Linked DNA regions of Homo sapiens: region 1 is linked to region 2. A link means that fine-mapping ties the variant in region 2 to the expression of a gene that starts in the linked region. Tissue or cell type: whole blood. Region 2 holds a variant in brackets; the other region holds the start of a gene. All regions are shown on one strand. Distances are from middle to middle.

The links.
Region 1: RNF212 starts here. The variant in region 2 is fine-mapped to the expression of RNF212 in whole blood (TOPMed, PIP above 0.99).

What each region holds. Positions count from the first base shown.
Region 1 is chr4:1,110,216-1,115,584 of GRCh38, forward strand. RNF212 (ring finger protein 212) reads right to left here and starts at 3,349. Exons shown (of 10, transcript NM_001131034.4): 1 at 3,141-3,349. The coding sequence starts at 3,249. It overlaps LOC124900647 (nascent polypeptide-associated complex subunit alpha, muscle-specific form-like), which reads left to right and starts at 3,424. Exons shown (of 3, transcript XM_047416477.1): 1 at 3,424-3,537. LOC105374344 (a long non-coding RNA gene) reads left to right here and starts at 3,424. Exons shown (of 3, transcript NR_134676.1): 1 at 3,424-3,537. It also overlaps the pseudogene TMED11P.
Region 2 is chr4:1,195,316-1,200,684 of GRCh38, forward strand. LOC124900647 (nascent polypeptide-associated complex subunit alpha, muscle-specific form-like) reads left to right here. Exons shown (of 3, transcript XM_047416477.1): 2 at 1-1,481; 3 at 1,816-3,723. LOC100130872 (a long non-coding RNA gene) reads right to left here. Exons shown (of 4, transcript NR_024569.1): 4 at 468-4,732. LOC124900164 reads right to left here. Exons shown (of 1, transcript XM_047416479.1): 1 at 5,311-5,369. The coding sequence ends at 5,328. It also overlaps a transcript of SPON2 not described here. Among named protein-coding and RNA genes, the nearest start is that of CTBP1-AS, 12 kb to the right of the region's middle. RefSeq lists enhancers at 1,246-2,445, 4,328-4,877. The variant C/T (reference allele first, on the strand shown) is at 3,039.

The sequences.
Region 1 (5,369 bases), 85 kb before region 2:
AAAGAAACACCTCAATAAAAGGCTATGAGGAGACCTGAATAGGCATAGGAAAAAATGCAAACAGCCAATAAACACACAAAATGAAGGTCAAGGTCACTAGTAAGAGACACCAAAGAGGAGAAAACAACAGGTGCTCACGTGTCACTACAGGGAATAGAAACAGGCACTTCCTTTGTGCCTGTTTGGGTCGCATTTGGGTCAGTTTTCATGTGCACATCCGCAGCCTAGCCACTCCACCCCGAAGAATATATTCCAAGGAAAAAAATCAAGTAAGAGAACAAGTGGTGTCTCATAGCAAAACGGCAGAAACTATGTTATGGTATGATAGCCAAAAGATGTATCATGCAACCTTAAGAATGATGATACAGACTTATTTTAACACGGAAGGAGGTCTATGTTTGAGTAAGTAATAAAAGCAGATTACTGAATGGTAGACACACTATTGCTTTTGTTTTAAAAATCTGCATCTATAGGAAATGCTTGGAAGGATATACACCAGAGCTAAACAAGGGCTTCCCTCTGAGTGACACACCACTGGACAGCTACAGAGCTACAGTCAAGGCTCTGCCCAGAGCCTCCACCCCTTTTCACCACTTTTTTGTGTGTCTTTGGATTTGGTGTGGTCCCGACATGCAGCATCTGTGGCTTTTTGGAGGAATGCACTCAGACTACTGGAATCTGTGTTGACCTCAGGCTTTAAGAGCTAGGCAAACCTGTGAATCTATACCTGCCCCAGGCCCTTAACCAGTCACCTGCCAACGCAGAGTATGCTGACCTCAAAAGCTATGACGCTCTGAGCCCTGTCTTCACACTTCCCAGCACCACGAAGGCACACGCGTCTCCATCATTCCTAACAATGTTATCTTCGGGGAACATTATCTTGGGTCACCAGTGCCCTCCTCACTGGTCCAATGGACACTTTCAAACACCAATTCCTTGACTTCACTGGGATGTCCAGTTCATCAACATCTCTTTTTTACCTGACATCTTCTTTACCTCCTTCAACAAATGCTCTTTCCAACAAGATAGTCTCTTCTAGTTTCCTTCACCTTTGGGGCTCTCCACACTCCAATATCTAGGATTATAGGATTATTATCCCGTATTAATCGCTCCCCAAATGTGTTCCTGGCTGTCTTGAGTTCCAGACCCACATGTGCAACTGCCTCTTGTCTTCCCCTGGATGGCTCTCACAGGATACAGGCCGTGTCCAGACATGAGCTCAGGGGCCCTGCACCCCACCCTGCTGTGCCCCACCCTGCTGGGTTCCCTCCCGCTGGGCTCCTCTCCAGTGTTTTGTCTAGCAGTGAAACCCTGTCCAGTTCTCTAGCCCTTGTCTCCGACTCATGTCTGCTGAATCTACCTAACTTCTCCTGAACCTATCACTTCTCCCCATCACCTCTCATGTGCTCAGCTGCAGTCTCTCCCACAGTTTCTATCTCCCTCCAATCTACTTTTCACCTCGCTGCCCGAGACACTTTTGTTTTTAAATACACACCTGAAATCAACAACTCCACTCCCAGGTTACACACCCAACAGAAATGTGTACCTAAGATCACCGAAGACAGGAGCAAGAAGATTCACAGTAGCATTATTTCTGCAGCCAAATCTGCAAACAACCCAAAGGGCCATGGACAGTGGAAACGATGAGTAACTTGGGGTGTATCCATACAATGGAACACCACACAACAATGAAAGTAGATGAACTACAGTTACATACAAATACAATGATAAACTTTGCTAATCCCACATTTCGGGAGGCCAAGGCCGGTGATTGTTAGAGGACAGGAATTGGAGACCATCCTGGGCAACAAAGGGACCCCATCTCTGTGAAAAATTAAAAAAATCAGGGGTGCGTGGCTGCACATGCCTGTAGCCCCGCTACCCTGGAGGCTGAGGTAGGAGAATCACTTGAGCCTGGGAGGCGGAGGCTGCAGTAAACCGAGATCCCGCCACCGAACTCCAGCCTGGGCGACAAAGCTGAGCTCTGCCTTGAAAGAGGCAAAGAGAAGGAAGGGAGAAAAAGGAAGAAAGATGGGGAGCCACAGAAAGCGGCTTTGCTGTAGGGCTGGTTGTAGGGCTGCATTCACTAAGGCTCCATGGGTCTAAGGCCAACTCCGAGGATGGAGGTCAGCACAGCTGGCGTCCCCTGGGGCTGGAGGGCTGTGAGCCACCGGCACCCAGCTGGCTGCTTTCACGGGGAAGTTCGCTTGGTAAAAGCTCACTGTGTTTTTGCTTTTGTTCTTGCATAAACATCAGTTCAACACAAAATTTTCACAGAAAGAAAAACGCCTCCCTGACAATGCGACTGTCCACTTGACACCAGGGCCCCGCGCTGCCCATGGAATAGGGCCAGAGTCCTCCACTGGCGTTAAGGTTGCCGCCTGCCCGCTTCTCCCCCAGGTCCTCCAGGCGGACCCGCAGCCTGCAAGCCAGAGCCCCCGACTGACAGGACTCGTGGCCCGACCCCTGTGTCCCCCTCATCTTGCATCCCGCTCCCCCCGGCGGCCCCTCCCCTCCACGGCCCCTTCCTGCCTGCGGACCCTCCCCCACGCCCTCCTCCCCTGGCGTCTCCCCTCCCCCCATCTCCTCGGTATCCCCCTTCCCCCCCAAGCCTTGACCCCCCACATCCCCCACCTTGCCCCCCTCCTCTGGCGTCCCCTTCCTCCCTGCAGCCCCCCACCACCTCCGGCGTCCCCTCTTTCCCCACCCTCCCGCAGCCCCTCACTCCCCCGCTCCCTCCCCACCGCTTCTCCAGTGTCCCCCTCTCCCCACGGGCCCCTCATCACGCCCGCGGCCCCCACTCCCCGGTGGCCCCTCCTCCGAATACCCCTACCTCCGCGGCCTCTCACCCCCCCATGCCCCCCCCGCTCCATGCGCCGTTTCTCCCCCTCGGCCCCCCACGCGCCCCCGCGGCCCCTCCACCCCAGGTCCCCCTCCCCTCAGAGTTCCCCTGCTCCTCGCGGCCTCTCCCCTGGCATCCCCCTCCCCCTGCCCCCTCCCCCTTCTCCACGCGCCCTCTCTCCTCCGCAGCCCCCCACGTGCCCCCATGGCCCTCCCACCCAAGTCCCCCATCCCCCGGAGTTCCCTGACCCCCTTGCCGCTCCCCTCCCCTCTCCAGCCTGCGTTCGGGAAGCCCTGACCTTTGCCGAGGCAGGCGTCGCAGTACACGTGCCCGCAGTTGGTGAGGCTGAAGCACGACGTCCTGTGGGGCGGCTGGAAGCAGCGATTACAGAACACCCAGTTGGCCATGCCAGGCGGGCGACCGCAGCGGCGAGGCCGGGCCCACGCGAAGCCCACGCAAGGTTGGGACCAGCCTCCCCGCGCAGGGCCCGAAGGCGGGCAGCTCTGCGCCTGCGCAAAGTCGACGGCAGCCCTGCGCCCGCGCACTGGAGCTCGCGCCCTCCCGCCAACCTCGCGGGTTCTCCCGCAGCACCTGGGAGGGCGCGTGTGACTCGTCTCCCAGGTCGTTTGGGCTGGAGTAGGCGGAGGAACGCACCGCGAGCACCAACGTCCCGCCCCTGTCTTGGCGGTCCTCAGGTGTTTTGTGGAAGCCGGGCCTGGGTGGCGGGCGCGGGGAATGGCGGCTGCGCTGAGGAGGCGTCGCGGCGCGACAGCAGTGGGGGAGGGGGAGGGGGAGCGCCGAGGGCGGGGGATGCGGGCCAGGCCCACCTTGAGGGCCGGGAGCTGGGCCGGAGGCCAGGGCGGCCAGGGTAGTGCGCTGGGCGAGGCAGGGGAGGAGTAGGGGAGAGTGGGCGTGGGGGCCCTGGGGGCCCGGGGAGCGGGATAGGAGGGAGGGAGGGATAAGTGGGTGTGGGAGTTGGGGTGGGAGCGGGAGTGGGGATGTGGGAGTTGGGGTGGGTGTGGGGGCGTGAGGCGGTGGGGGTGGGGTGTGATGAGGCGGTGGGGGTGGGGGGGGCAGTTGGGGGTGGGGGCCAGGCCGCGCTGCACGCTTTGGGACTAGTGTCCAGGTGGCCGCTGGCGCAGAGACCTCAGCACGGGAGGCCTGAGCCTGCTTCCCTCTGAAACGGAAGGCGTAGCTCGGGAAGGACCTCTGCTGCTTCCAGGTTCCAGCATGGGGAAGTGACTTTTTATAAAATTGTCCTCTGCGTGGTTTTGAGAGTTTCCACCCGCTGGGACGCTGCAAAGCTCGGATCGAGAGGCTCAGGCAAGTGCTTGTGCCGGGAGAGCGCAGGGTGAGCGCTCCCGGTAGCTACGGGCCAAGTGACCCCTGCGCCCCGAAAGATGTGAGTAAAATACAGCTGTTTCCAGGGCCTCGTATGAAAACCTTCTTAGTAATTTTATATTGATTACATGTTAACATGATATTTTTGATATATTAGGTTAAATATATATCAGTAGCGTTGATTTTACCCTTTCAAAAAATCCTTTTCAATGTGGAGACTAGAAAACTTAGAATTACGTATGGGCTGGGTGCGGTAGCTCACGCCTGTAATCCCAGCTACTCCGGAGGCTGAGGCAGGAGAATCGCTTGAACGAGGCGGAGGTTGCAGTGAGCCGAAATCACACCACTGCACTCCAGCCTGGGCAACAGAGTGAGACTTCGTCTCAACAACAACAACAGCAAATTAGAATTATGTATGTAGCCCACTTTTATTTCTGTTAGACAGTGCTGATCTCTACCAAGTTTAAAATAGCAAGACCAGCAACGTGGCAAAACCCCGTCTCTACAAAAAATACAAAAATTAGCTGGGTGTGGTGGTGGGCCCCTGGGGTCCCAGCTACTCGGGAGGCTGAGGTGGGAGGATTGCTTGGGCCCTGGAGATCGAGCCTGTGGTGAGCCTGACGGCACCTGTGCAGCAGAGCGAGACTCAGTCTCAAAAATAAGTTTAAGAATAGGATGAGGTGCCTAATCTATCAAATTCAGAAGCTGCATTATAAAAGCATTCTCTCAATGTTATAATGATATAACGTTAATCTCAATCTCTGGTATCTTTGAAATCATAAAAATAATACACATATATGCAGGTATTTTGATTTATTAACTCAAACATTATGCAGATTATTTGTCCTTATTGATAATATTTTAAACAATCTTCTTAGCTATAAAGAAGTCTTTCAGGTACTTCATTTGGAAAATTCCGACTGAGATAAAGATTAATATTTGTGCAAAAGCCCACCATAAAACATTGCTATTTGTATCTTCACTGGTCGTTCGAAAATTTTCTTCACGGTCCTATGCGGAAAAGAAGTAGGTTTAGTGTCATAAAGTACTTAACTCACGATTTTGAGGGGAGGGTTGTTGTGGGCATTCAAGGTATTTAATATTACCCAATTAATATCTTACACCAACGTATCCGTGCAGTCTGCTTTTCTAAACCAGAATCTGTTGCTTAGCCAAGTATAAGAGA
Region 2 (5,369 bases):
CTCCCCCATCCACTACTCCCACAGGCAACAGGACCGGCCCCCTGGCCCGTCGGTGGGCGCATCAGCTTGGTGGCCCTGGCCCCCTGCGCCTCAGGGGTCCCTCACAGGCCGGCCAGCTTCCAGCACCCTCCCTAAGTCCTCGGCCCCTTGGAGGCTGCCATGGCACCTGAACCTCCCCCCGCCTCTCCAGGCACAGCTCGAGGTTGGGCGGATGGGGGCTGCATCCCGGGCACCACATGTGGGTAGGCACTGCCGCAGCCCCTCGAGTAGCCCTCAGCAAGCAGGGCTGGAGGGTGGGCTCTGTGCAAAACCGCCATCACAGCCCCAGGGCCATCAGCAGGCAGAGGCGCAAAGCCTGGTCATGGCCAGCAGCCCTGGGATGCCCCTGCCCCAGACCCCCCACCCCGGAGACCCCCAGCCCCAGGATGCCCACACCTCAGCCTCCCAAGTAGTTGGGACTACAGGTGTGCACTACCACACCCAGCTGATTTTTTTTTATTTTTGTAGAGCGGTCTCGCTGTGTTGCACAGGCTGGTTTCGAACTCCTGGCTTCGAGCCATCCTCCTGCTCAGCCTCCCATGGTGCTGGGATTGCAGGCGTGAGCCCCACGCCTGGCCACGCGCCTTGTTGAGTTGGTGACTTCGCCTTTGCTGTGGGGATCTGGGTTGGGGTCTTGTGGCTTACATGAGAATAGAAGATCATGGGGTAGTTCCTGGCACCCTCCCCTCAAGGAGGCTCACACAGGCCAGGACCGCCCCCTCTGGCTGCCCCATCGCTGCCCCCCGACAGGCCCTCTGCCTCTCCCCTGTGAACCACGAAGCACATCGATGGGGTGCCTAGCGCCCCGCCTCAGTCAGGGCTCATGGGGGAGGCCCTTCTTTAACGTCTCTTACTGGGCACACCCAGAGGCCACGTGTTCCAGGGTCAGAGAGACCAGGAGAAATCCCAGCTTCTTCACTCACGGCTGTGCATCTTCAAGAAGGTGACTGTGCCTCTCTGAGCCTCAGCCTCCTCTGTCTGACAGCATAGGGGTCTGCAAGTCTCTAGAGGTCATGTGAGCTCCATGGGAACCTCTCATCTATACCGTGGAAGCAGCTGCGGGAAGTGCACGTGAGCTCTGTGGCCTCATGCCGACCAAGACCCTGGGGGTCACACCAGGCATAGCTGAGAAGCAGAGCAGAGGCCACTGCGGTGACCAGGGTTACTCCCGAGACTCAGAGCAGAGGCCACTGCAGTGACCAGGGTTGCTGCCTGCCTGCCACACACCCCACTTGGGCCTCTGGCTGTCTCCTCTCCTGCAGAAACCCCATGGGCAGGTGTGCAGCCAGCATGGAGGGAAGATGTGTGTGCCAGCAGAGAGAGCACGAGGCCTGGAGTTCTCATCTGTGCCACCAGAAGCAGGGGACAGTGAAACATCATCCATGACCACTAGGGAGACGGCTCCATCCCAGGCATCACAAACCAGCCCAGAAGTGTCACCGGTAAGCGCGACAGCAGACACTAGAAGGTATGTCATCCATACTCATTATCCAGAGAAGGTACTAGAAGGAAGCCAGTCACTGCCTCTGAGTCAGACCAGAGGACACCCCCCTGACATCAAGGTGAGGCCAAGGGGAGAGGAAACAGGGCTAAGTAGGGCCTGTGATGTCAGCATGTCTGGTTGGGCATGTGGCAGGGACGATGACTGAGATAGAAGACATAAACCTCCATGGTCCAAACATGGGAGCTAAACTCGGAAAGCCAACAGGACGGGGACATGATGAGGGGACTTGAGGGTCACAGGAGCTCCCTCCGTGTCTCTCTCTCCATAATTAGGTCTAGTGGCAACAGAAAAATGCAGACAGATCAATATGGATGGTCATGCTCACGTTCCTCATGGGAAACAGCGCTTCCGAAGATTCCTCACGGGAAACAGAGCTTCCAAACGTTCCGACTTCCGATAAGTCCATGTCTGTTGTGTATTGGCTGCAAAGAAAACCTCAAGGAACTAAAAAGTAGAATAATTAAAATGATCCTGTTATCCAAAAAATTGTAAAATAAATAACGGAAAGTGCCACCTCTTCCCCCAGAAACTTAGAAACCAACACACTCCCAGGTAGCCCTTGGGTAAAACAGGATATTAAATCTGAACGTGCACTCTCTGAAAAGCCGAGAAGCCATAAATATCAATCCATAAATATCGAGGACTCAGCTAATGCAGCGCCCAGAGCCCCCAGCACAGCTCTTATTTTTTAGAGGAAAAAATAAACGAGAGGGACTTTGTGCCACCCTAAGAAACTAGAATGAGAACAATAAAGTGCATTTTAAAAAGTAGGGAGAATTATGAAGATAAAGCCAGAAATTAATGAGTAGAAAACAAATAAGTAAAAAGGAGAAATGATTGTTTTCTGAAAGAAATAAAATAAAATCCCCTTGCCCAGCCCAAAAGCTGCATCAAGAAATGACTGCCTAGGCTGGGCGTGGTGGCTCACGCCTGTAATGCTTACACTTTGGGAGGCTGAGGTGTGCAGATCACTTGAGGCCTGGAGTTTGAGACCATCCTGGCCAATATAGTGAAACCGTGTCTTTGCAAAAATACACAAATTAGCCGGGCATGGTGGTGCGTGCCCGTAGTCCCAGCTACTTGGGAGGCTAAGACAGAACAATTGCTTGAATCCGGGAGGTGGAGGCTGCAGTGAACTGAGATCGTCCCACTGCACTCCAGCCTGGGTGATAAAGTGAGACTCTGTTTCAAAAAAAAAAAAAAACTAAAACAAATAAATGACTACCTCTATTTAGAATTTTTGTACATTGAAATAAAAAAACCCACACATGATTAGGAAGAAAGAGACCCCAGTATGGAAGAGGCTGGAGGAATGATGAGACAGCCCGCTCGGCCGGGGCAGCTGCTTCGAAACCTGCAGCAGCCATGTTGTCGTGGGTGTAAAGTCCAGAATGACTCTGGATGAGCGGCACCACGCAGAGATGAGCACGAGGTGCTGGAGAGGGCGAGAGCTGAGCCAGGAAAGGAGGCACCAGGAGCAGATGTCCGCAGCTGA[C/T]GATGACCTCACCTTCCATGGAAGGAAAGTCATCCCAGGGTTACTTTAACCTTCCCAAGACATGAAAGGATGGAAAACTCTGTAATTCATCTCATGAAACCAGGATAATCTAATTCAAAAACCTGATGTGGAACAAAAAGAGAAAACCATAGACAAATATCACTTTTCGCAGATGCAAAAAAATCTAAGTAAGAGAACAGCAAATAGGACTCAATGCAGCATCAGCGGATTCTACACAAGAGAACAGCAAATAGGAACCAACGCAGCGTCGGCGGATTCTACACAAGAGAACAGCAAATAGGACCCAACACAGCGTCGGCAGCATCGTGTTATGGCCAAGCAGATGAAGGCCAGGCTTACGAGGGCAGCGCAGTCATCAGAGACGTCATTTCATTAGCCAATTAGCACAGAAAATTCAGAGAACCTCACCGACAGGTACTGAAAAGAAAACTGACCAAATTCAGCAATCTTTATGAATAAAAGCACTATTTCTAGTAAAATAGAAAAAAGTGCAAAAGTCTCTGTCCACAATAGTGGCCAAGATCGTTCTACGTGGAAAACACAAATGTCACAAATCCAGGGTCGACTCGTGGGGCCTGCTGCTGTCATAATTGTCCAGCATTTTCTCGGAGGTTCTGGCAAACTTAATAGAAAAACCAAATAAATGGCACAAATATCAGAAAAATAAGACAATTTATTTTGTTGATGACATGATTGTAAACCTAGTTATGCCTCTGCTCCCTCATTTAAAAATTAAAAATCAGGCCAGGTGCGGTGGCTCACGCCTGTAATCCCAGCACTTTGGGAGGCCAAGGTGGGCAGATCACCTGAGATCAGGAGTTCGAGACCAGCCTGACCAACATAGTGAAATCCTGTCTCTACTAAAAACACAAAATTAGCCGGGCGTGGTGGTGCATGCCTGTAATCCCAGCTACTCGGGGGTCTGAGGCACGAGAATCGCTTGAACCCATGGGTGGAGGTTGCAGCGAGCCGAAATCACACCACTGCACTCCAGCCTAGGCCAGAAGAGTGAAACTCCATCTCAAAAAATATTAAAATTAAAATTAAAAATCAGTAAAAACATTTTAATACAAGATAAATATACAAAAATTAGTAACTTCCCACTCCTCTAGCAATAATCACCTGGAAATTTTAAAAAAAGGGAGTCAAAATATTCCCTTTGCCATGGCAACTGAGTAGTTGGGGGTGAAGGTTAGGATGCTGTATGGAGCAGCTCCGGCCATGGGGAGCTCGACAGAGGCGTCATTTCTCTCCCACATGGTGGCTGAGAATAGCTGGGTGTGCTGCTCTGTCGCCACACATGGGGTCCCCCCATCACGCCTCTTCTCTAGCCTTCCAGGCATCTTTCCTGGCTGTGGGGTTCTACTGGGTGCAGAAATGCCCACGTCCAGCTGGCAGGAGGGGCCGGGGCCAGGGCAGGAGAGGAGAGGCCATGTTTTCCAAGACCGGAGCTGGCAGGAACAGTGTCTCCAGGTGACAAAAGCCTCCGACAATTTGGCGAGAAAGGTGGGGGTGGGCATGAGAGGATGCAGGGCCCCCACCACTCAAGCAAGGAGAGCGGGGGGCAGAGCCACGGAGAAGACCCAGTCTGGAGCCTCTCCCCCCAGCCTGAAGCCCAGCCTCCAGGTTCCATGAAATCACCTCCAGTTATTCCAGGAGAAACGGCGCACGGCCTAGGAAAGAAAGAACAGGCAGCTTGGACCCAGGCTCCAATCCCGGCTGCTAGTTACCAGACGGGCAGCCACATCGCGTCTGTGTGCCTCAGTTTCTACACCTGCGGCTGGGTTGATGGTTGTGTCCGCCCGGTGGGGCTGCTGTGAGTTAAGGGGTGAGAAACGCTTCCCTGTCCACTGTCTCTGACACGTTCTTCCTGGGTCACCCCTCACTCAACACCCCCAGAGACCAGGCAGGCTCCACGGACAGTTGAGAAGGCGTCCAGCCTGCAGAACGGAGTCCAGGACCCAGAGAAGCTTCAGGGGTGAGCAGGGTGGGTCGGGGCTGGGGAGTAAATGACAGAGGGAGCAAGTGGAGGGAGGAAGGGGCTTCAGGACAGGAGGTGCAGGCTAAGCGAGGATGGCTGAGCCGCCCTGGTGTCAGAGCAGGGGAGGCTCAGCGGGGGCGGGGGCGGGCTCAGCCTCTGCGCTTCTGCCTCCAGGATGTTATGGATCTGGCAGGGAACGTGTAAACCATGAGCTCACCCCACGGGAACGTGGTTTCCTCTGGCTGCCCCCACAACAGCTGTTCCCCATCAGCACCGGCCCCATCTCCCTAGCAGGAAGCTGGGCAGCCACTGCAGGCCAGGTGTGGACG